Regions from separate parts of the Homo sapiens genome. Here region 1 is linked to region 2. The links come from fine-mapping of genetic effects on gene expression. A gene starts in region 2. The other region holds a variant in brackets. All regions are shown on one strand. Distances are between the middles of the regions.

The links. PIP is the estimated chance that this variant, and not a neighbour inherited with it, causes the effect.
Region 1: its variant is fine-mapped to the expression of DGAT2 in whole blood (TOPMed, PIP above 0.99).

What each region holds. Positions count from the first base shown.
Region 1 is chr11:75,790,522-75,802,643 of GRCh38, forward strand. DGAT2 (diacylglycerol O-acyltransferase 2) reads left to right here. Exons shown (of 8, transcript NM_032564.5): 4 at 140-210; 5 at 5,807-6,011; 6 at 6,637-6,811; 7 at 7,706-7,908; 8 at 9,833-11,013. The coding sequence ends at 9,987. Among named protein-coding and RNA genes, the nearest start is that of UVRAG-DT, 18 kb to the right of the region's middle. RefSeq lists a silencer at 6,590-6,639. The variant C/A (reference allele first, on the strand shown) is at 7,751.
Region 2 is chr11:75,762,453-75,774,574 of GRCh38, forward strand. It overlaps DGAT2 (diacylglycerol O-acyltransferase 2), which reads left to right and starts at 6,326. Exons shown (of 8, transcript NM_032564.5): 1 at 6,326-6,660. The coding sequence starts at 6,540. DGAT2-DT (DGAT2 divergent transcript) reads right to left here and starts at 6,195. Exons shown (of 4, transcript NR_046090.1): 1 at 6,042-6,195; 2 at 1,791-2,541; 3 at 1-92. RefSeq lists enhancers at 4,103-4,322, 5,629-6,129, 10,884-11,033, 11,174-11,403 and silencers at 6,216-6,325, 6,406-6,645.

The DNA of each region.
Region 1 (12,122 bases), 28 kb after region 2:
GTGGAAAGGGGCCTGATGGGAAGGGGGCATGGTGCATGGGGTGATGGTCACCTGCTTGGGTTTCACACTGGCCCTGTCTTGTCTGCCTTGCCCAAATGTACCCCCACCCCCACCAACTCTGTATTTTATTCCCTGGAAGGTGGCAGGAGGTCACAGTGGGTCCGAAACTGGGCTGTGTGGCGCTACTTTCGAGACTACTTTCCCATCCAGGTAAAGTGCTGTGAGTGTTGTTTTGGGAGGGTGGGAATGGATGGGAAATCTGAACTCAGGCCTTAACCCACCCACAGGGAAGCAAGTTTAGACCAAGTTGGTCTCTTCATTTCCTTTCTACTGTGTCACTGGCTGTGCTGGGGACCCCACTGCTCTTCTGAGTATCCATCTTCTTTGGGCCAGCCCTGAGGTCCTGACAGGGAAATGGTGGCTCAGTTTGGCTTTCAGTCTCAGCTCTGTCTGGCCCCTGCCTGGTCTGCAAGCTGGGCTGGTGAGGCACAGCCATCTGGCCCTGATGCATGTGGGCAATCCTGGTGAATTGAGGATAACTCTGGCAGGATCCTGAAGGTTTTCCCCACAGGGGAAAGACCTGTCTGGCCAGCTCACTCCACACCCCAGCTCCAGCACACCCTAGCTGCTGAGTACCCTGCAGAAGGTAGGGGTGCTGAAGAGTGGAGGCAGCACGTGAATGTGAAAGAGTTCTGTGCAGGGTGCAGGGTGGTGTATATTTGCTGTTGTGAGTCAGTGACTGAGATCCTGGTGTGTTGCCTGGGGGCAGTGGCTGGGTAACCCTGCATCCTTCACTGCATTCGGTATTTTGGGGGTGGCAGGGCCAGCTCCTTCTGCTCATCCTTAGCCTAAGCCCAGTCTTCCCGGGACCTTCCTGCTCCTCAGGGTCAGCGTTCCTTCTCCTTTTCCTGACCCCATCTCTCTAACTGCAGAAAATTTGAAGCTGTTTTTGTTGGGAGAAAGTTGCATCATAGGACCCAACCCTCTAATTTTGGAGGTAAAGAAACTGAGCCTCAGAGATGGGCAGGACTTGTCCAGGCTGCATAGTCTAGTATGATGGCAACATTGCAACCACCATCCAGGCTTATTGAATTCAGGGCCCAGGTTCTTTTCCACTGATTTCCTACTGCCTGTTTCTCTGGGAGAGATTCAATCCCTGGATTTCCCCATTGGATTGATTCCAGCTTCCTGGGTCTCCCTCTCCCCCGTTGCTGCTGGAGATCTCAGTTTAAGTTCCTGCCCTGTCACTCCATTTATTAACCTGCCACCATTGCTCCCTGTCCAGTGCAGGGCTGTGCTGGGCATGGGGACACAAGTCAGCCCTGCCCTTGGGGTGTCTATTGCATCCTGATAGACTTTGTCACTTTCTGCCATGGGGCCATGGGCAGACTTTCTCAAGCCTGCTGAGCCTCATCTGCAAAATGGAGCTGTCTGTATGATGAAAAGTAATCAGTTCTGATTGGGTGGGAGTGATGATAGACTGTTCTTTCTGCTTTCTCTCTCACCTCAGGGGCCAGGCTCCAGTGTTCTCTGTTGCCACTGTGGCCTGGTCCTCTGGAAGTCTCCAGGAGGCCAGTAGCCCCATCCACTTAGAACAGGATGACCTGATGATTGTTGGTCAGACCTGGGACAGGCAGGTGTCCTTTGCTATCTGATCTCCACCCTTCCAAAAGAACCAAACAAACCCCTGTGTCCTTCTCACATCTCTGTTCCAAGAAGTCAGCTGGGAGTTGGAGCCTTAGGGCACATACAACCTGGCCCTGTGAGGGCTCCCTGGGGCACTAGGACAAAAGCCAAACTGGGCCCGAGGCAGGCTGGGGTGTTGAGCCTCAACCCGGGGCTTAGGCTGATCAACCCGGGGCTTAGGCTGAGCCTGCCTCTCTCCCTCTGGGCCTCAATCTCCCCTTCACTTGGCCTTGGTGATCTGACATCAGGTCTGACACTCTATGGGGGTGTGTGTGACCCTCCTGTCCCACCCCCTTTTCCTGGCCTCTTGCCAGTAATCATGTAATGAAGATCTGCCGCTGTACCCACCCGCCCACCTACTCCCTTCCTGGTGGGACTCTGGTCTTTGCTGCCAGAACAGCTCATCTGGCCCAGAGTGTATCCCTTCTGTTGGCACAGGTGGGGTTCTTGTGTTAGCAACAGCCACCGAGACCACCAGCCACCTGGAAGAGGAGCAGACAGTGCCCCACATCACCTCTCCCCAAAGTGTAGGCAGAATCCTTGGAGAGGAGACTAGGAAACACTCTCTCTAAGCTTAGAATCACCTGTCCATCTGCCTCATTTCACTGATAGGCTTACTGAGGCACAGAGAGGAGGGACTATCCCAAGGTCACAAAGCTTAAGTAGTAGCAGGACTAGTGTAGGAACCAGGGCTGTCTGCTTTGGGGCCCATGGTCTTACTCCTGTGTTACTTTCACCATCACCATGCCGTGCTGTGTAAACTTAAGCAAGCCTTTGCTCTTCTGTGGGTCTGAATTTTTTCCTCTATGCACTGCTGTGGTGGGACAAGCCTATCTGAGCACCTTGCCTCTCCTGGGAGGGAGGGTATAAAGAGTGACTTGATAGGAATGTGTCCCAGACTGACATTAGCGAGCAGGCCGGGCCTGGGCATCGTGTTGGGCTGGGACTTTGCCACGGGAAACAGGCAGCAAGAGGACACAAGAGCAGGCATGTCAACAGAACCTTCATTGGCGGTATCCTTCCCCTCCTTCCAGAACGGACATTCTCTCCAGCCCTGGGGGAGGGGAGTGTGACATGAAAACAGATCAGAGCTGGTCAGATGCCTACATTCTTCTGGGTCCTACAGCAAGGGCATTGACTTGCACTGTGTCCCAAGGCACCTCATTCAACCAAATGTCCCATCAGAGCCTTGGGGAGGGAGGAAATGATTTAAAGAGCCACCTGGGGCCCACTGGGTGACACATCTTCATCCAGCAGCCCAGGGAAAAGTGCAGCGACTGGCCTGCTCCAGATGTGCAGGATAATTTGCTGTGACCTCCACAGGGGAATTGCAGCTCCCTTTTCTAGGCCTCAGCTTCCCCCCGTCATCCAAGGAATGGCTTAGACCTTTCAGGGCTCTGCCAGCCCATGCAGTGCTGTGGGTTCCTGGTTATCGGCCCAGTGGGAAGGTCGGGGGAGCCATAGGAAGGGGACAAAAAGATGCTGCACGGCGTGATGGTCACCTGCCAGGGTAACTATCCCAGGCCTGGCCATCAGCTCAGGAGCAAGTTTCCAAGTTTCCCACCTGGTATTGGCTGCCCCAGCTCTTCCCTCAATGCCTGCCTGCCTTTTTCATCAAAACTAGCACAAGGAACTTTTTAATTCCAGCTTCACTGAGAGCTAACTTGGTGGGCAGACCTGCTTGTTAGGCAAAACATTGGAACAGCAATCTTAACAGAGCTCATGTAAACGAGATTTTGAGATCTGCTCGCTGCCCCGAGCCCCACTAGCTATGGATTAGACTGCTGCTGTTTCCCATTTATTTGGGGAGTAGCTGAGAGTTGGTTTGGTTTTTGAGCAACTTTAATCTGTTTGCCAAGGGCAAAGCGGGAGAAAGAGCATCAGTGCCCCAAGCAGTGGGGATGAGAGTGAGGGAGTCTTGCTCACATTTGCACAGACTGGCAGCGTCAGAGCTGGGAGTGGTGCCAGCCAGCCTTTTCCATCCCCTCTGTCACCTGAAGATTTGCATTTCAATTTTCCAAGGCCAGCCACCAGCACCCTCTCCCCCAGAGCTGCACACAAGTCCTTCAGCTCTGCCAGGAGGCTCCCAAATCTGGAGTCACAGAAAACCTGGGCTCTTGACATTCTGCTGGTGGCCAGTGACTCTGCTTCCAGCTGGCACCAGTGCAGGGAAGGGGCACTTTGCAGCACTCAGGTGGGAGTGTCATTGATGTCACCTCTTTTGAGGCAGGGCAGCCAAAAAGACCAACGTGTTCATTCCTTGTTATCCAGGAATTGTATTTCTAGAAGTTTGTTTCACAAAAGCAATCAGATATGTGGACAAAGATAAGGTATTTATTGAAGCATTACTTCTAAGAGGGAAATTTTGGAAGCTTTTAAAATGTCCATCAATCAGGGTTTGAGTCAGTGCTGTTACATGCATGAGAGCTGTGCTGTAGAATACAAATGCAGCCACGAGAAGATATGGAACTGAGGGATTTTGATAAGGACAGATAGCTGTATGTTTGGTAGAAAATGATATAAAAATGATATCAACCCATATAACCTCAATTTTGTGGGTTTTGAAAAAGAGCATGTATATTTTTGAGTAGAAAAAGGACTCAATGCGTCAGATGGTTTTATCTGGATGGAAATATTATGGATTTTTTAAATTTTCTTTTTGCTTTCCTATATTTTTAAAATTCTCTAGGAGTTTCTCTTCTTTTCCCTCTCCCCTCCCCTCCCCTCCCCTCCCCCTCCTCCGTTCCTCTCCCCTCTCCTCCGTTCCTCTGCCCTCTCCTCCGTTCCTCTCCCCTCTCCTCTCCTCTCCCTTCTCTCCTTTCTTCCTTTCCTTCTTTCCTTTCTTCTCACTCTGTCACTCAGGCTTGAGTGCAGTGGTGCAATCTCGGTTTACTGCAGCCTCTGCCTCCTGGGCTCAAGCCATCTTTCCACCTCAGCCTCCTGAGTAGCTGGGACCACAGGTGCGTGCCACCATGCCCAGTTAATTTCTGTATTTTTGTAGAGATAAGCGTTTCACCATGTTGCCCAGGCTGGTCTCAAACTCCTGAGCTGAAGCAATCCTCCCACCTTGGCCTCCCAAAGTGTTGGGATAACAGGCATGAGCCACCATGCCTGGCCCTATTATTTTTCTAATCAGAATAAAAATGATGTTTTTATGAGCAGAATACCCTTACTCATTGTCTCTCTCAGCCTCTTCCACCCCCATCACATTCCTTGTAACACAGGGTAGGTGTCACAGGCTTTGCCTCTCATGACTCAGGGTTTAGGGACACTGCATCACCCACCCCTTCAAGCACCAGCCCCAGGGCAGGAGGTGGGCCCTGAGGAAGCCAATCATCGTTTAGAGCATCCCAGTGTCCTTAGTACCACAGGTCAGGTCCTCAGCTGCTGCAGCCTTACAACTAACCTCTACCCCAGGCTGGCTGGCACAGGGCTGTCGCTTGTCCTGTCTTGTCCTTCCTGCCTTAGAACCTGAACTGAGCCCAGCTGACTGTGGGAAAGTTTCCATTTGGGCCAGCTGCAGTGTCCCTTTTCCAGGCCAGGGGAGTAGGAGGTGGGCTGCCTGTCTCATTCTGTGAGCTGTGGAGGAGCCCACAGAGCACAGGGCCAAGTAAACCCTACCTCCAAGGAGCTCACAGTTTGGAGAGACTGACAGTGGGGGCAGAGCTTGCAGCCAAGGCCCCGGTTGCCAAACTCAGGAACTTGGACTTTACTCACATGAAGCCAGACACACTCTCCAGTCTAAGAGTGACAAGGGTTGGATTTGAGTTTTAGAATAATCACTCTGGCTGTTGCGAAAAGGATGGGCCCAGAGGGAGGGAAGGCAGGAGGCTGGCAGAGTGCAAAGAAGAGCTGCTGTGTGCATGGCTGAAGACTGAGAGGAACAAGGGCAAACATTGCCCACCCCTTCCCAGAGACCCACAGTGCAAATGGTGACTGCCCAACACCAGCACTGTGGCCCTGGGGATGAGAGTCTGAGGTAAGGTGTGGAGATTCATTGCAGCCCTCAGGCCCATGGAGGTCCAGGGGAAATGACACATCCAATCCCTCCCTACCCTCCGGGTATGCCCCGGTATCCCTCTCCCAGCCAGTTTCCTCTGACCCAAGGTCATCCTTGCAGCTGGTGAAGACACACAACCTGCTGACCACCAGGAACTATATCTTTGGATACCACCCCCATGGTATCATGGGCCTGGGTGCCTTCTGCAACTTCAGCACAGAGGCCACAGAAGTGAGCAAGAAGTTCCCAGGCATACGGCCTTACCTGGCTACACTGGCAGGCAACTTCCGAATGCCTGTGTTGAGGGAGTACCTGATGTCTGGAGGTAAGAATCCACCCCCTGTGCTCCTGCTGGGCACTGTTGTCAAGGCCTGAGCCTCTCCATCGGGCAGGGTGACACAGGGAGCCAACACACCATTCCTTGGTGCTGGGCCTGCATTGGGAGATGCAACCTGCTTCAGACATGGTGGGTCAGGGCTGAGGAGGAGAGCTGTCCATATGGTCTTGAGAATTCAACTCGGATAACATCTTCCCTAGGAGGCCTTCTTTGACCCCCTTTTCTGGGGACCCCCAGCCCTTGTGTTGCCTTTTGTACAACCTGATTGTTGTCCATGGCACTGTAATTGTCCACCTGCCTGAGACCTCCCACCAGACTGATGCATTGGGATCCCCAACACCTCGCACCGACTTGGCAGAATTAGGGCCCTGGGAATGTTTGCCAAATGCATGAGTTCCCAAAACAACCTTGTATCATTAGCTGCATTTTACAGATGAGGAAACTGAGGCTCAGAAAAATGAATAGCTTACACAGAACCAGACAACTCCAAAGGGGCTGGGCTAGGTCTGGGGCCCAGGTCCAGGGTTCTTTATGTTTTATACCTGACTGTGTGCCGGGGATGGGGAGTGGATCCATGGGCAACCCTGACTGTTGCGTCCTTCCCTCCCCTCAGGTATCTGCCCTGTCAGCCGGGACACCATAGACTATTTGCTTTCAAAGAATGGGAGTGGCAATGCTATCATCATCGTGGTCGGGGGTGCGGCTGAGTCTCTGAGCTCCATGCCTGGCAAGAATGCAGTCACCCTGCGGAACCGCAAGGGCTTTGTGAAACTGGCCCTGCGTCATGGGTGAGTGCCTCCCTACACACACACACACCCCTCCAGTGCCCCTCAGCCCAGGGCAGCAGACTCCTTGGCCCCTGAAGACAGGACCCAGACCCCAGGAAGGCATGGAAGGGAGTCAGTCATTCTGTTAGGGAGGGGATGTTGGAGCCCAGACTGCACAGTGTGGGCCAAGTTTGCCCATGTGTGTCTGGGTGGGCACAGATGCAACCTGTGGCCTGTGGGCCCTTGCAGGTGGGCCGAGAGTCCAGGCTTATATGCAGGACTGGACCACCTGGGGCCAGAATATATCATTTTGCTGGGAGACCAGGAGGTCAGGAAGGAGGGTGGTGTGGAATGTGGCTGGGGGACAGCAGCTGTTTTCTCTGTCCCCTGGGGACCTTACCTCAGGCTTTGGAAGAAGAGGCTGCCCTGCAGGCTCAGCCCTGGGCCAGCCCCTGGGGACACATTCATATTGGACCCAGTCCCTGCCTTCAGGGAGCACCAAGGGTGGGGGAGGGTAGAGGGATGGACAGTGACAACACAGTGTGCTGAGACTGTGAAACAATGGTGAGTCCAGGGCTGAGAGAGGCCTGGTTTGGTGGAGGGACCAAGAGAACTTCCTGGCAGAGGCAGGCCCTGCAGGAAGAGGTGGAAAACAGGCATTCCAGAGCAGGGCGCTCAGCCTTCCCTTTGCCTGGGGGACCCAGAGCTCTGATATGCTCCCCAGTCCCTAGCAGTGGGGCAGAAGGCCCATCAGAACCTGGTAGAGAGGGATCATGTGAACTTGGGACACCCAGGTAATTCTGGTACACCCAGCTGGGGGAGGGGGATGCTTGGCCAGTGTCCAGGGCCTCTAGGCTGACATAGAAACTGAAGCCAGTAAGTAGGGTATGACAGACCCTGGCCTCTCCCTTCCAGAGCTGACCTGGTTCCCATCTACTCCTTTGGAGAGAATGAAGTGTA[C/A]AAGCAGGTGATCTTCGAGGAGGGCTCCTGGGGCCGATGGGTCCAGAAGAAGTTCCAGAAATACATTGGTTTCGCCCCATGCATCTTCCATGGTCGAGGCCTCTTCTCCTCCGACACCTGGGGGCTGGTGCCCTACTCCAAGCCCATCACCACTGTTGGTAAGCCCCTAGCCTGCAGACCAAGGGCTGTCCTGAACACAGGGTGCCATACAGCTAATCAGCAGTAGAGACGGGATTCCAATGCAGGCCACCTGGCTCTGATGGCCATGCCCTTAGCCATGAGGACTTTGAAGTGTTGGGTGCTGATATTGGTCAGGAGGGGTAGTAGTAGGAGTCGGGGAATTGAGCCTATGGGATGAACCAAGCTCTGTGATAAGTGAGGAAAGAAAATCTGCAGTCTCTGGGTTTGCAGCACCCACTAGTCTATCAGGGAAGACTATTGCAGCAAAGACTAGTGGGGGAATGTGATGAGGATGCGCAGGTGCTCTAGGGAGTCATAGCGGACCCCAGGGAGGAGGTAACTCTTGCACTGCTAACTGATAGGAATTATCTAGCAAAATAGAGGAGGAAGAGAATTTTTATCAGAAACAATAGCCTACGTGAAGTTCAGAAGCAAGATTGTGTAGTTTTTTTGAAGAACAGAAAGAAAAACATTAATATGACTGCAGCATAGACCTGTCAGAAGAGTGGAAAACACTGGTTGCACTTGGCCCTCGTCTGTGTTGTTTTGGGTGTATTTGGGACCATTTAGAGGATTCTAAAGAATTACCTATTGTAGGTGTGTGTGTGCATGTTAATGGATCCCCCAGGAGCACATGGGCCCTTGGCAGTGGACTTGAGGGGCCAAAGCTCACACAGATCCTTTGCGTTCCTAGGCCAGGTGTCCTGCCTTGTACTTTTAGGTAGAGACAAAGCAACAGGGAGGCAGCAGGAACATTTCCATGCACAGGTGTGGCTGGGGAGGGGCTGGGTCCTGTGGGCAATGTGAAGGAATTTGCTCTTCACCTTGAGAATGGAGAGCCACCAGAGAGTGTTTGGGAGGGGAAGTTCAGATTTGCATTTAAAAATGATCCTTGGAGCTGCTGGATGGAAGATGGGTTAGAAAAATGGAAGCCACGAGACCAGCCCAGAGACTGTTTTGGTAGCCAGTGGCTTGGACCAAGGGAGTAGCAGTGGAGATGGAAGAGATGTGCATGATTTGGGAAAAATTTCAGAAATAGCATTGGCAGGACATAGGAATGGATTGGGTATGGAGATGCAGCAGGATAAGAAAATAAAGCAACGCACAGATCATAAATGCTGGTCTACTCCCTCCTCTCCTGCCCTTAACCACACTTTTTATTTTTTTTTTTTTTATTTTTGAGACAGGGTCTCATTCTGTCATCCAGGCTGGAGTGCAGTGGCGCAATCTCGGCTCACTGTAACCTCTGCCTCCTAGTCTCAAGCGATCCTCCCACCTCAGCCTCCTGAGTAGCTGGGACTACAGGCGTGCACCACCACACCCAGCTAATTTTTTGTATTTTTTTTTGGTAGAGACGATTTTCACCATGTTACCCAGGCTGGTCTTGAACTCATGAGCTCAAGCAATCTGCGGGTCTTTGCCTCTCACAGTGCTGGAATTACAGGCGTGAGCCACCACTCCTGGCCTACACTTTTTAAAGCATGTCACATTCCTTGCAGAATCCTTAGAAAACCCCTATGAGGAAGAATCCCCATGTGACAGATGAGGAAACTGAGGGTCAGAGAGGCAGGAATGGCTTGCCCAGAGCAGAGCAAAAGCAAAGATGTTTACTTGATCCCCTGACTCTCATAGACCCTCCTAGCAGAATGCAGTGGGTTCAACCAGTCTTGATCCCATCTGCAGCTTAGCACCTGGTGGCCTCGGGTGGGTCCCTTCACATGCCCCTGGGCCTCAGTCTTTTCATCTGTAATAGGGGACAACCAGAGATGCAGCACATAAAGCATTTGGCACAGTTCCTTCCACATGGCGGGCCCACAGCCCAGCGTCACCACCTTCAGCATCATGGTGGATGCCCAGGGGAAGGGTGTTGACTAACCAGAAGCCTCTGCCCTGTCCCTGCAGTGGGAGAGCCCATCACCATCCCCAAGCTGGAGCACCCAACCCAGCAAGACATCGACCTGTACCACACCATGTACATGGAGGCCCTGGTGAAGCTCTTCGACAAGCACAAGACCAAGTTCGGCCTCCCGGAGACTGAGGTCCTGGAGGTGAACTGAGCCAGCCTTCGGGGCCAATTCCCTGGAGGAACCAGCTGCAAATCACTTTTTTGCTCTGTAAATTTGGAAGTGTCATGGGTGTCTGTGGGTTATTTAAAAGAAATTATAACAATTTTGCTAAACCATTACAATGTTAGGTCTTTTTTAAGAAGGAAAAAGTCAGTATTTCAAGTTCTTTCACTTCCAGCTTGCCCTGTTCTAGGTGGTGGCTAAATCTGGGCCTAATCTGGGTGGCTCAGCTAACCTCTCTTCTTCCCTTCCTGAAGTGACAAAGGAAACTCAGTCTTCTTGGGGAAGAAGGATTGCCATTAGTGACTTGGACCAGTTAGATGATTCACTTTTTGCCCCTAGGGATGAGAGGCGAAAGCCACTTCTCATACAAGCCCCTTTATTGCCACTACCCCACGCTCGTCTAGTCCTGAAACTGCAGGACCAGTTTCTCTGCCAAGGGGAGGAGTTGGAGAGCACAGTTGCCCCGTTGTGTGAGGGCAGTAGTAGGCATCTGGAATGCTCCAGTTTGATCTCCCTTCTGCCACCCCTACCTCACCCCTAGTCACTCATATCGGAGCCTGGACTGGCCTCCAGGATGAGGATGGGGGTGGCAATGACACCCTGCAGGGGAAAGGACTGCCCCCCATGCACCATTGCAGGGAGGATGCCGCCACCATGAGCTAGGTGGAGTAACTGGTTTTTCTTGGGTGGCTGATGACATGGATGCAGCACAGACTCAGCCTTGGCCTGGAGCACATGCTTACTGGTGGCCTCAGTTTACCTTCCCCAGATCCTAGATTCTGGATGTGAGGAAGAGATCCCTCTTCAGAAGGGGCCTGGCCTTCTGAGCAGCAGATTAGTTCCAAAGCAGGTGGCCCCCGAACCCAAGCCTCACTTTTCTGTGCCTTCCTGAGGGGGTTGGGCCGGGGAGGAAACCCAACCCTCTCCTGTGTGTTCTGTTATCTCTTGATGAGATCATTGCACCATGTCAGACTTTTGTATATGCCTTGAAAATAAATGAAAGTGAGAATCCTCTATGAGTTATTGCTGGGGCTGCATCTGCATCTGCTGCTGACACCTGGGGAAGACTGGGTCCCCAGCTGGCTGCCCTCTGAGCCCTCTAGCCCCTTGCACCTTTGGCCCACATGACCCTGCCATGGTGTGTAAGTTACCTGTCACTGTGTAACAAACTACTTCAGAGCTCAGTGGCTTCCAACAGCATCTGTTGTCTCCCAGTTCCAAGTCACGATTTGAGGCTTGGCTTGGTCCTCCACTCAGGGTTTCTCACAGGGCTGCAGTTGTCTTGGAGCCGGGCTGAGGAAGGATCCACTCCCAAGGCCGTTCCTGCAGTTGTTCGCAGGATTGACTTCCTCACTGGCTGTTGACAGAGGCCACTTTCAGTTCCTTGCCACATGGGCCTTTCCATGGGGTAGCTCACGGCACACCAGCTTACTTAGCAAGAAGAGCCAGTGAGTGGAGTGAAGTGTGCGAGCAAGACGGAAGTCCCAGGCCCTTATAACCTAACCTGGGAAGTGATATCCTGTCACTTTTGCCATATTCTGTTCATTAAATGAACATTGCTCGGTCCAGCTCCCACTGGACGGGAGGGGATTACACCAGGGAATGGATGCCAGGGGGCAGGGGTCATTGGGAGCCACTTGACATGATGCCTACCATGTGGTAAAGGGCTCCTGTCCAGCTGGGGGGCCCTTGGGTGGCTGAGCTGGAAGGCTCCTTATGGGTCACTCAAGCTGTGTTCCCTGCCCCTGGCCTCAGCTCTACCAAAAAGGCAGAGGCCTGGCCTGCTGTCACCCTAGCGATTACAAGATGCCACCTCTTTTCTAATTCCTTTCTGTTCAGTGAGTACTAAGCACCTGGGAACCCTTCCTAGCCGAGACCAAAGGACCTTGTTCTAACTTCCTTACTGCCAGAACTGTCCTGCCTGTCCTTGCTGTTCATCCCCCTCAGGGCCAACTCCTCTGTGCCAGAAACTGTGAGAGAGCTACTTGGGAGCAGAGACAAACATTGGGAACAGCTGAAGATACGCAGGGTGGCCAGAGCTGTGCCAGAAGCCCCAGCCTGCCCGGGGGTGCGTCACTGAGGAAAGAACGCCTGAGCTGGGCCTTGAAGGGCGGCTGAGAGTC
Region 2 (12,122 bases):
CCTGTAATCCCAGCGCTTTGGGAGGTTGAGATGGGCGGATCACGAGGTCAGGAGCTTGAGACCATCTTGGCTAACATGGCAAAACCTCGTCTCTAAAAATACAAAAAAAAAATTAGCTGGATGTGGTGGCGGGCGCCTGTAGTCCCAGCTACTTGGGAGGCTGAGGCAGGAGAATGGCGTGAACCCGGGAGGTGGAGCTTGTAGTGAGCCGAGATTGTGCCACTGCACTCCAGCCTGGGCGACAGAACGAGACTCCGTCTCAAAAAAAAAAAAAAGAAAAAAGAAAAAAAGAAATGGTTTCACTGCTTTTAAAAAGCTAGAAACTACTGCTGAATAATAATTGTCATTTTAGGTGTCTGTTTCTTCCCCCAGAATGCCCCTAAGGAGCAAGAACTGTACCCACAGCACCCAGCACAAGGATGGGGGGTCTCAGGAAAGGTCGGCCAGATAGAAGGGCAGATGAGAAATGAATGTACTGGGAGCTCTCTGTGTAATATCCCCTCCCCCACCCTCACCCCACCCCCCAATTCCTGCAGGGAAGAGGCCTTGAGAGAGTTGAGTAAGAAATAAGCAGGCAGAATGATGCAAGGGGAGCTGTCTGTACACATTGCAACAGAACTTTCTAAAACAAGCCTGGGGCTGCTCCCAAGGGTCTCAGTCCTGCCCTATTCCTCTACTGTCATCCAGACCTGTCACACAAGATAGGGCCAAAGGCCATTACCAAGCTCTGCTAAGGCCTGACCTTAGAGCTGGGAGGTCTGTGCTCTTGGGTTCTGGTTTGAAACCCGGAGCCATCTTCAATCACCCCCTTCCTTCCTTTCAGCCCTACATCCATGCCATCAAATCCTAGAGACTCTAAAGCTTCAGCATCTCTCAAAATCACCCTCGCTTCTCTTTTGCCTTGCCACCCCTTCAGTTCAGGCTCTGTCGTCATTATCTCTCTCCTTCCTCTCATCTGCCTCCCTCCCTTCCATCCAATATCACCCAGGTCCCTGTGGGTTGTCTGTGCCCCTTCAGCAAAGGCCACAGCTTCCATGTGGCAGCCCTCTCCGCTCAGCCCCCATTGCACCTGCAGTGTCCTTCTCTTAGTCCTTCAGGCCAGATCCCCTGTGAGGTGACTAGTCCTGGGCTACTGCACCATCCCTTGAGTTTTCTCTATAGCCTGCTTACATCTTTGCAAACAGTCTTTGTATTAAACTGTCCTCAAATTACCCAGTTTGGGTGGGCTGTTTCCCATAGGGACACTGACTAATATAAGGTAGAGGTAGTTAGGAAGGGTGCCATGGAGATGACAGTTAAAGATGTTCTTGCCTGGACAATGATCTTTCTAAAGCATAAAACTCCTGCTAAAAACCTCTATGGCTCCCCATTGCCCTGAGAATAAAGTCCAGACTCTGTAGCCTGCCACCCAAGACTATATACCATCAGGCCCCTGACCACAAAGCAGCAGCAGCATGTGGGGAAGCCACCAGGAAGAGGGAGAGTAGGGGGCTTGGACGTGGGAGGCAAAGACTTCCAAGAGGAGTGCAGCCATGCCACACAGCTGCTCTGGCTGGCAAATTCCTGTGAGTAAGGAGGCGGGTGAGTTTCCAGGCTAGAGGGCCATGCCAGGCTGCCTCTGCTTGCCAGAACCCTGCCCGCCCACTCTCCAAGTGAGTTGAGCACTGAAAGGAGTTTAACCCCAATGGGCCCTAGCCTTGTGGCATGAGAACTGGTTACATCCCAACCCCATCTGGTAAGCTATTGGATTCCCTGAGCTTTCATTTTGCCAACTGCAAAATGGGACTAACCTCCCAGGGCTGTGGAGGCGATGGATGGGAATTTGCTTTCGTCCAGTAGTTCTGCTGTTACAGGTGCTCCCTCTCCCAGCCTTGGGAGGCAGGAAAAGCGTACAGGTTTGAGGCTCTGGAAGACTTGGTGTGAATCTCAGCTTTACTACTTACTCCTTGTGTGATCCAGGACAAGTCACTTTACTTCCCTGCACCCCATGTGCAAAGCGGTGGGGGTGATCACCCCTTGTGTGGTGGCTGTGAGGACTGGGCAAGCTCACACAAGCCAGGGCCTAGCACAGAGCAGGGAGCTTGATACACGTTTGTTTCTGTCTTTCTACCTGTGCCTCTCTTAGGGCAAGTGTCCTCTCTGCCTTATAGGCTGGCCACTTACCCTCCTCATGTGTGCAATGGAGGAGCTAAGACTGCTATCACTGAAGCATATCTCAGAGGTGCATGCGTCAAACCTCTCACAAGCTACAAAGCTGCACGTGTAATCCCCAATGGCTGTACAACACTGGTGATTGAAGTGGGTGGAGGATGAGCCATCCTTGTGGATGCCTCTCTGCTCACACCCCTCCTTTGGTCCATCCCCCAACAGGATGAAGTCCAAGCTTCTTGGTGGGACCACAAAGCCCACCCTGGTCAAGCCCTTCTTGGAGGCATGACTTGACCGGTCTCTGATTTTCCCAATATACACATGGGTTGAGAGATGATGAAGGAAAGGTAACCAGGTCCTAGAACACATTCTCAAGCTGTTCTGCTCACACACCTGCAGGAAGGTCAGGGCTGGTCATTATAGGAGGCTAGGAATGTCAAGAAGCATGGGAGGGGGCCAGGAGAAGTCAGAGTCTGGTGTAAGTCCCCCTTGCCCAAACTCACACAGGGGAAAACAGTCCCAGGACACAGGAAGCTGCCATGAAACTTCCTTTCCAGGCTACTCTAAGTTTGGGTCTGGTTTTCCTTCCAAATCCAATTTGGACCAAGCTGTTTAAGCAGTACCCATGGGCATGGCGGCTGGAGGCCAAGGGGAAGGAGTGTTCTAGAAGTTGGGATGCCAGGGGCTGCTTGCTCTGTGAGGTGGCACAGAAGTAAGCAATTGTGCCTCTCAGCCCTTGGACTCACCTCTGCGTCCTCTCACAGATGTTCCCACACAGGAAGGGCCCAAGCTGGGGACCAGATTTTATGGCCCTATTCCCCAAGCACCCACCTCCACCCCAACAACCCAGCTTATCTTCCTTTTTTTTTTTTTTTTTTGAGTCTTGCTCTCTCGCCCAGGCTACCAGGCTGGAGTGCAGTGGCACAATCTCGGCTCACTGCAAGCTCCATCTCCTGGGTTCACGCCATTCTCTTGCCTCAGCCTCCCGAGTAGCTGGGACTACAGGCACCTGCCAACACGCCTGGCTAATTTTTGTATTTTTAGCAGAGAGGAGGTTTCACCGTGTTAGCCAGGATGGTCTCGATCTACTGACCTCGTGATCCACCCGCCTCGGCCTCCCGAAGTGCTGGGATTACAGGCGTAAGCCACCGCGCTGGGCCCCAGTTTATCTTTCTAACCCACCAATCCAATCAAGGTGCATCTCTGCTCACACCCCTCCTTTGGTCCATCCCCCCACAGGATGAAGTCCAAGCTTCCTGGCAGGACCCACGAGGCCGTTCAGATCTGGGCCCTGTCAACCTCTCCAGCCTCATTTCCTACCCCTCTTCTGCCTGTATCTTTCTTTCAGCCACACCAGGGTGCTCACAGGGTTCCTACCTCCAGGCCTTTGTCCATGCTGTACCCTCTGCCTGACACCTTTCCCCTTTCCCCCTGCCTCACAGAATCAGACTTCTCATCTTAGGTCTGCAGCAATATCACTTCTTCTTGACCTTCCCAATTTACCATTCCCTCTACTTCCTCTATGACTCTACTATACTTTTTCAGGGGGCAATCCACCTTGGACTAAGCGTCTATGCCGAGCTAGGCCCACACTGGGACATAGAGTGATGAGGTTCCTGCCCTTGGGAAACGCCTGGCTCCGTGGAGAGGCAGGCAGACAGTGACAGCACAGGGGGAAAGGCCAAACTTGGCATAGCCTTCCATGTTACCCTGTGCCACAGGCTGGCTGTCTTGGGATCATTGGCTTTAGGACACCATCTCTCGATTGGGTCTCCTCAAAGCCAAGGACTAAGTCCGATTACTCTCTGTGTCCTAACCAAGGCCGGGCCCAGAGAAGGTGCATAGCAAAAATGTGCTGAAGTAGATGAACTTGGGATCTGAATGTTTCAAATAGGCCTTGGTAACCCCAAATCTTGCCATTTAAGACAATGATCTCTTACATTACAGCACAGTGATAACACTCTTTTACATGCTGTGATTTCACTTCATCCTCAAATACTCAAGTGAAGTCAGCAAAACAGAAACTGTCACCTCCATTTCATAATGCAGAAAAGGAAACCTAGACAAGATAGCGATACTGACTTGCCCAGGGTGAGTGGGTGGGCCATGAGTTCCAGCCCAGGCCTCCTCCACAGGAGACCCTTCTGGAGCAGGCACGAGCCACAGACTGACCTGGGATCTTCCAGGCCAGCAGGAGTCTTGCCTCCAAGAGCACCCTCTCTGAGGAGAGGATGCCAGGATTTACTGGCACCTTCAGTATCCTCCTGGCTTCACTCCTCTTTGCCCAAAAACAAACCACACCTGTTTCTACCTCCCAGCCTTTGCACTTACCAGTCCCCATGTCTCCCCCCATCCCCCACATGTGGCATGCCACTAGCCTACCCTCAGTTTCCTAAAAGGCACTAAGATCTTTCCAGCCTCATGGCCTCACCACATGCTGGGAGCTCTGCCTGGAATGCTTTTCTTTCTACTCTTGGCCAATTCGGGCCTTGGGGCCCAGTAACACGGTTGAGAGATTTACTCCTGTGGCCTTGAGAGGGCTGAACAAATGGAAGCATCTCTAGGTTGCACCAGAGGCATCTATTACCTGCTGCCCTGTGCCTGTAACTTCTGTCATTCTCCTCTCCCCCTGTGAGAACATGATAAAGACCACAAAGGCAGGGAATTCCTCTCCTCTTATGCTGTGACCCCACAGCTATCTCGCTCCAGCTATGCCTAAGAAATCTGTCTTATCACTGACATGCTTGTTGTCCCCACTCGTTCCCTGAGCCTCCATCCAACAAGTCGCTCCACCACATGCTGGTGGATCTCGCTTCCTATGCTCTTCCCTAGATCAGGCCTTCCCTCCATTCCCTCTACCACTGCCGTGCCTTGAGGCTCATCCTCTCTCACATGGATCCCCCGCCCCTACAGCCTCCCCACTGCCCTCCTGACCTACAGCCTCTCCTGTCCATTTCCCATACCATGGCTAAGGACACTTAAAACCCACCTGACCAGCCATTTCCCTACTAAAGCTCTCCCAAGACCCGGCTCCCCCCCAATATCTCAAGAGTGGCACTCCCAAACCTCTCTCAGTTCAAGCACCCGCGCCTCTCACTTCAGCCTCATTTTCCACAGTTGCCTGGGCTCCAGCCACTCCAGGGCCCCCAGCCCTGCCCCAAACATGCTGGCTTTTCTAACACTTTATGCCTATCTTTCTGCTTTGCCCTCACACCTTCCATCTGCAAAATTCCTATTCATTAATGGGCAAACCATTCTGGAATGCTTTCTATGTGCCAGACACTACCTAGGCTCTTTTTATACCTTATCTCATTTACTTCTCAAAGTACCTCACAAAAATAATAATTATTATTCCCATTTTACAGATATGGAAACTGAGGCTCAAGAGAGGCAGGGCAAGAACTGGACTCCTAGTCTATCTGATTCCAAACCTGCTGTGCACCAACCTCTCTGGGAAGTGCACCAGCGCCCCCACTCCCCCAGCCCAGGGCAGAGTCTTCTCTACTCTGTGGTTCCATAGCCCCCTGGTTTCTCGCTTGTCCCGGCCGTTGTCACCAGTGACTGTGTGCGGCTGTCTCTGCTGCCCCCCAGCGTGAGCATCCCAAGGGCAGAACCTGGGCTGATCTGGCTGGGTCCCCAGCACCCAGCAGGGTATAGGTGCTCTGTGAGGTTTCTTAATAAAGAGATGGAAAGCCAGAAGCAGTTTGGGTGGTTGAGATACCCAGCCCTAACCTAACTAATCCTGATACCAGTGACCAAAAGCGGGACCTTCGCATCTTTGCTGCCAAAAGACAGCCCCTCCTAAAGAGTAAAGGCCCGACCCCCTGCACGCCCTCTGCCTGCACCGCACGTGCTTGGTTTTCCCCGCCCGGGTACTGGCCGCCGGGCCGTACCAATCTCCGCGGGGGAGCGCCCGGGGTCGGACTGAGGGAGCGAGGGGAATAACCGGGCGCGCCCCTTGGAAGCAGGGCTCAGAGCTGCTCTCCTCTCACGCATTCCCCGGATCCGCGCGGAGCAGGCTGCTGGCCAGCCCCGGGCCCGCGCCAAGCAGAGCCTCAGGTGCGGTTCCCCCACAAGCAAGTGGCGCGGGCGGCGGCTTAGAACGGCCCGCCCCGCCCGCCGCGTCGGCGCCTGCCCCGTTGTGAGGTGATAAAGTGTTGCGCTCCGGGACGCCAGCGCCGCGGCTGCCGCCTCTGCTGGGGTCTAGGCTGTTTCTCTCGCGCCACCACTGGCCGCCGGCCGCAGCTCCAGGTGTCCTAGCCGCCCAGCCTCGACGCCGTCCCGGGACCCCTGTGCTCTGCGCGAAGCCCTGGCCCCGGGGGCCGGGGCATGGGCCAGGGGCGCGGGGTGAAGCGGCTTCCCGCGGGGCCGTGACTGGGCGGGCTTCAGCCATGAAGACCCTCATAGCCGCCTACTCCGGGGTCCTGCGCGGCGAGCGTCAGGCCGAGGCTGACCGGAGCCAGCGCTCTCACGGAGGACCTGCGCTGTCGCGCGAGGGGTCTGGGAGATGGGGTGAGTGCCACGGCGCAGGGGTTATGGACCTGCGAGAAGATTTTCTGGAAAGGGCCCTGTGGCAGGCTGGTGGGTACTGATGAGTCCACGTTCATTCTCCACTGTGGCACTCATCAATTTTTACGACCTCTGTTACATCGCTTTCCACCCGCCCCCCAGCTTGTTTCCCTCATCCGTGAGGTGGGAGCGGTACCACCCACCATTCTTAGTTATTAGGGATATTCGAGAACTCCTCCCCAGCCCCCACTGCGGCTGGTGACCCCTGGCACTTCCCTCCCCTCTCCCTTCACCAGGTAGAGCGAGCTTTGGCAGTGATAGACTGGATGGGCAGGATGGTATGGGTTTTGCCGTCTCCTGAGACAGCCACCAGACGGGGAACATGCCCGACTGGAACAGGTGTGTCTGCCCTGTCCTCTGTCCCACATCCATCCTCTCGCCCAGGCTCTGGAGCCCACATAGCAGCAACTCTTGAGCCTGGCATGCTTAGAAGGCAGCGGAGAGGACCCTGCATGTCCTCCAAGGTAGAACTGAGGTCCTCAGTGAATCGCGCAGAGTTGAAATCAACCCCCGCCCCGCACCCCCCGCAGCTTTTCCCAAGCGAGGAATAGCAACTCTTCCAACCCCCACCTCCCTTACCTAGAGCTGGAGAAACTGAAGTGGGAGGAAGCATGCCTAAGTTTTCCTTAGCTGATGCCTTGACCCCTGGATTCAAGTACAAATCCGGTAGACCCTGGGAAGTCATCACAGCTGTCCTGGTCTGCGTGTGTGTCTTGCATGAAGCCCCTCTCCCTCTTTCTAAGTCTGTATTCTGTTTGCTGAGCCTCTCTGACATGGATTTTTCTTTAGTAACTAACGGTCGCCTACACCGCCCACCTTTGTTACAAAAATAAAGCTTGCTAATTATGGAATTTTTGAAAATATAGACAAATGAAAAAAATTTCTGGTAAATCGACTATCCAAAGATACCTTCCTATTAGCATTTTAGTATATCTCTTGATCATTTTCTTTATACACATTGCATAGATACAATTGAGGACATGCTGTAGATATAGTTATGAATCTTGTTTTCTCCCCCTTAATGTAACATCGAGGTTTCCCTTCTGTTAATCAGAATCACTTACAATGTCCTAGTGGTTGCAATAACCCACCCTGCAGCTGTACCACACTTTAACTGTGACCTAGGCATTGGCATTGCTTCTTGTGTGATTATCGCTGTGGTTATCTGCCCCTCTTGGTGTGGGTGCTGCTCGTAGCCCTTGAAGAGGAACCCAGCTGCTGCCCTGTCTCGGGGGCGAGCAGCTTGAGCTGCCCCATGTATCCAGCCAGTAGCCTCTGACAGCCCCTTCTCTCACTTGAGTCCTTTTCTGTTCCCTGTGTCCTTTGATGTCCTTAGGGACATCAATGGATGAATGGACTTGCCCTTGTTCATGCTGTTAAAAATGTTTTTGCACTGGGCAGTGGGATAGGGATGTTCTCTGTGGTAGTGCTTCCTGGAGACCCCATTCCGTCGGCTCTGCCATCCACAGGCTGGGAGCTGTGTCTTCCAGGAGGCAGTGACCCTGGCTGTCATGTTTTTGACTTAGAGTTTGTTCCTTAGGAGAACTTGTACTCTAGCGAATGGTTTTAACCAAGCCACTTAATATCATGTCAGGAACATTTCCCCATGTTGTTATCAGATCTTGAAAACTTTTTTTTTTTTAAACTGGGTGCAAGGATTTACATCATGGAATGTAGGAAGGGCTGGTATGAAATGCAAACCAGTCAGTTCAGCTTTCTGGGATCTACTTTGGTGAAAGATTGGGTGGAGTAGGGGAGGGCACTGAAGCACATTTTGTTATCTGGGCATCTCCATTAGACCTGCCTTCTAGATCCTTGGTCCTTGAAGATACTCCCCAGTGGCCTAGTTTGCCTCTGTGGGTAAGGTCCCACTGTTGTGAGCTGGTGAACAGCCCGTCAGTGACAGTATTCAAGTAGAGACCATGGATTCTGTGAAGGGAAGTCCTGTGACGGGTGAGAGATTGAAATAGATACCTTGGCATCTGGTTTCTTGGCCAAAAAAAAAGGCCAGCTGTGGGAGTATGGGTAGGTGGGTGCATGCTGGGGGAAGCGGGAGTCTGTGTTGATATTTCCTAATCCTTGGAGGGCTGTCCTGTGCCAGACGTGGAGTTTGCAGAGTTCATCAGGACAGGAGGGATATATATCCTATTCTTTATCCTTGCCTTTGGATTGGGGGCTCTTCGTTCAGAAGAGCCCTCTGACACCTGCCTGTGTCCTCAGGGTTCAGCACAGGACCTAGCATGAGATGTTGGTGGTCCCAGTAAAATTTTGAGCTGATTTGTTGTGTGCGGCTCCAAAGAGTGAGGCCAGGAATAGGAGTGGGATGATGGGTGCAAGTTTTGATGTAGCAGAGGAGTCCTTTCTGACAGCTGTTGAGGACTGCAACAGGCTGGGGTGGGTGAGGATGGAGTTCCACATCACTGTGGATCTGCTTGAAACTAAGTGGCTAGATTGTTGGGGGTAACTGGGAACTGAGGGTTGACAGTCACCTAACCTAGTCCTAAGTCAGAATGAGAACATTACTCTCATGCTTCCCTCTCCAATTCCGTGTGGCTTCCCCCCTCACCTACATCACTTCCCCAGCTGAATAGAGGCCACTTTGGGGCTGCGTCACCAAGGGCTCATCTAGGCTGAGAAAGGAGGGCCAAGAGTAATGTTGTATTAACAGGCTCAGTGACTCAATGGTCAGTGTTGAAATCCTGCCCCACCTCCACCCTCCTGCCCTCAAATTCAACAGCAAGTACTTGAGTTGTAAAAATTAGTGCTGGATCGGGCCCAACCCTCATGTTACAGATGGGATCACTGGAGTCTCCAGAAAGAAGGGACTTTCCCAGGGTTATCAAAGCCAGGCTAGAACTCAGATCCATCTCCCAGTCTGTGGCCTGACTCCTTAAGCCAAGAGAAGGGTTGCAAGGCCGTGAAGGGCTGAGTGCAGGGCTCTGTGCATTGTAGGTGCTCAGTGGTTTGCTGAATGAGTGAAGGTTGTCTCCATGGTGCGGGTGGCAGCTCATCCCTTCTCAAACTTTTTGAGGAAGCTCCCCAAGCCTGCCCTAGTGGATTAGAGCACTAAGATCCCCCAGAGCTTTGGCTGCCAGGTGAATGCCAGTTGCCCCCTACCCACACTCAGTCACACTTCAGACTTTCCAAACTCTTCCTCCTGGCCTATGAAGTAAGCCCCAGGTGAACAGCCTCCACTGCCATCACGACTTCCTCTCCTAGTATGTCACCCACCATGCTGCAGACGCATGGTGGTCTTCCTGTTCCTGCAGCATTACTCCCAATTCAGTCTTACCTCAGCGCCTTTGCATATGCTGCCTGTCTGCCCAGGTCTTCGCATGGCTGGCTTTACAACAGTCAATCTCCTCTCAGAGGTCTTCCCTGGCCACCCTATCTAGAGAGCCACTTCCAATCTAGAGAGCCACTTCCAATCACCACATCTTCTTTTATTTTTATAGCCTTTATCACTACCTAAATTTTCATGCGTGCTTATCTGTTTAAGCAATTGTCTCCCCAGTAAGAATATCAGTCCCTTTGCCGGCCGCGTGCCATGGCTTTCGCCTGTAATCCCAGCACTTTGGGAGGCCAAAGTGGGAGGATCACTTGAGGTCAGGAGTTCGAGACCAGCCTGGCTGACATGGTAAAACCCCTGTCTCTACTAAAAATAAAAAAATTTAGCCAGGTGTGGTGGTGTGTGCCTGTAATCCCAGCTACTTGGGAGGCTGAGGCAGGATAGTCGCTTGAACCCAGGAGGAGGAGGTTACAGTGAGCCAAGGTTGTGCTACTGCACTCCAGCGTGGGTAACAGAGCGAGACTCCATCTCAAAACAAAACAAAAAGAACAAACAGAAAAAGAATATGAGTCCCTTGGAAACAGGAACCTTGTCTGTCTTTCTCAGTGCTGTGACATCTAGCACAGTGCCTGGCACTGGTAATAGGTACTTAGTAAGTATCTGTTAAACGAAGGAATCATTAGTGGGACTGCCCCATTCCTCTTGGAGGAAGCCCTGCTTTTAGCTTCAGTGTGATTCCTCGAGCCTTCCTTGGGCCTCCTCTGTCCCTGTAACCACCTGTGCTAGGGACTGGGTGCTGGGGTTGTAGCTGTTCCCTGCCCTGGAGGTACCCACAGTCTGGCAAGGAGCTGGCTCCAAGGCTGAGTGGCAAGTGGGCAGAGCCAGTCTCAATGGTCACCCTTACTGCTTCCCAGGGCTTATTAGAAGCCCGAGAGCTGGGGTTCCAGGCCTGACATTTTTCTGGGATGTGGCTGGGGGCTTCACTTCCTCTCTGGGGATCTCACTCCTTCTATCTGGAAAATAGGGTCAGAATTCTCAGATTCTCAAGGATGGAGGGTTTGAGTTAACCTGAGTGTGAGTGTTTGTGAACTTGTGACATTCATGTTAGTCCTTGTCATTTGTCCTGTGTTACACATTCAGCAGGCCCCCAACACTGTAGAGAGTGGCAGACCCTGCTCTAGGGCATCCAGGAAGGCTTCACTGAGGAAGGGACTTGGGGTGTGGACCCTTCATTTTATTGATTGAGCACCTTCTGTGTGTCAGCTGCAGTCCCTGCGTTTGAGGAAGTGAGACCAGGGGGATGTACACAAGATGACTGTGCAGAGTGATCTGAGCAATGACAGGAAAGACTGCCAAGAGGTGAGACCGGGGAGCTTGATCACCCTGAGGTCAGGGAAGTCTTCCTGGAAGAGGTGACATTCAGTCCGGATCTGGAAAGATGAATAGACATCAGCAAGACAGGCAAGAACATTCAGGTACAGGAAATAGCATAAATAGAGGCATGAGATTTGGATGGGAGAGGCAGACTGACTGCAGGGCCTCTGAGTGACCAACTGAGGCTGAGGTCTTGGTGTACTGAGAGCCAGAGACAAGAGAGACAGAGAGGATGCTGGATCCAGGCCTGTGGTGGCTCACCTGTGTCTGCAGCAGGAGGAAGACTTGAGAGCTCATGGGAAAGGAGCCTGGTGCAGTTAGTTTATTGGCCTCCAGCACTTTGAGGGCCTCCTGGTATGGAGCTGCTGGCTGATTTGAGGGCCTCATGGGCAGGGCCCAGGGGTAGGAGTCAGGCCTGGGCTCTGTCCAGCTCCTGCTTGGCCACCGAACTGCTCCGCAGCCTCAGCAAGCCACTACCCTTCCTTACCCTCAGTCTCCTCATCTATGAAATGAGCAAAAGTGTCATAAGAACCTGTGCAGATTATGGTGCAGATGCAGACAGGCTACACCCTGTGAACCTTTTGGGTAAATCAATAGAAATGGGAAACACAAACTCCTTTTCTTATTAGAGCAGAATTAGCCATTCTAAGCCCTGCCTCTGCTTCCCATGTGACCTTGGGTATAACACTGCCTCTTAGGGCCTCAGCCTTCTCATCTGCACAGTGAGGAGGACTGGTTGAGA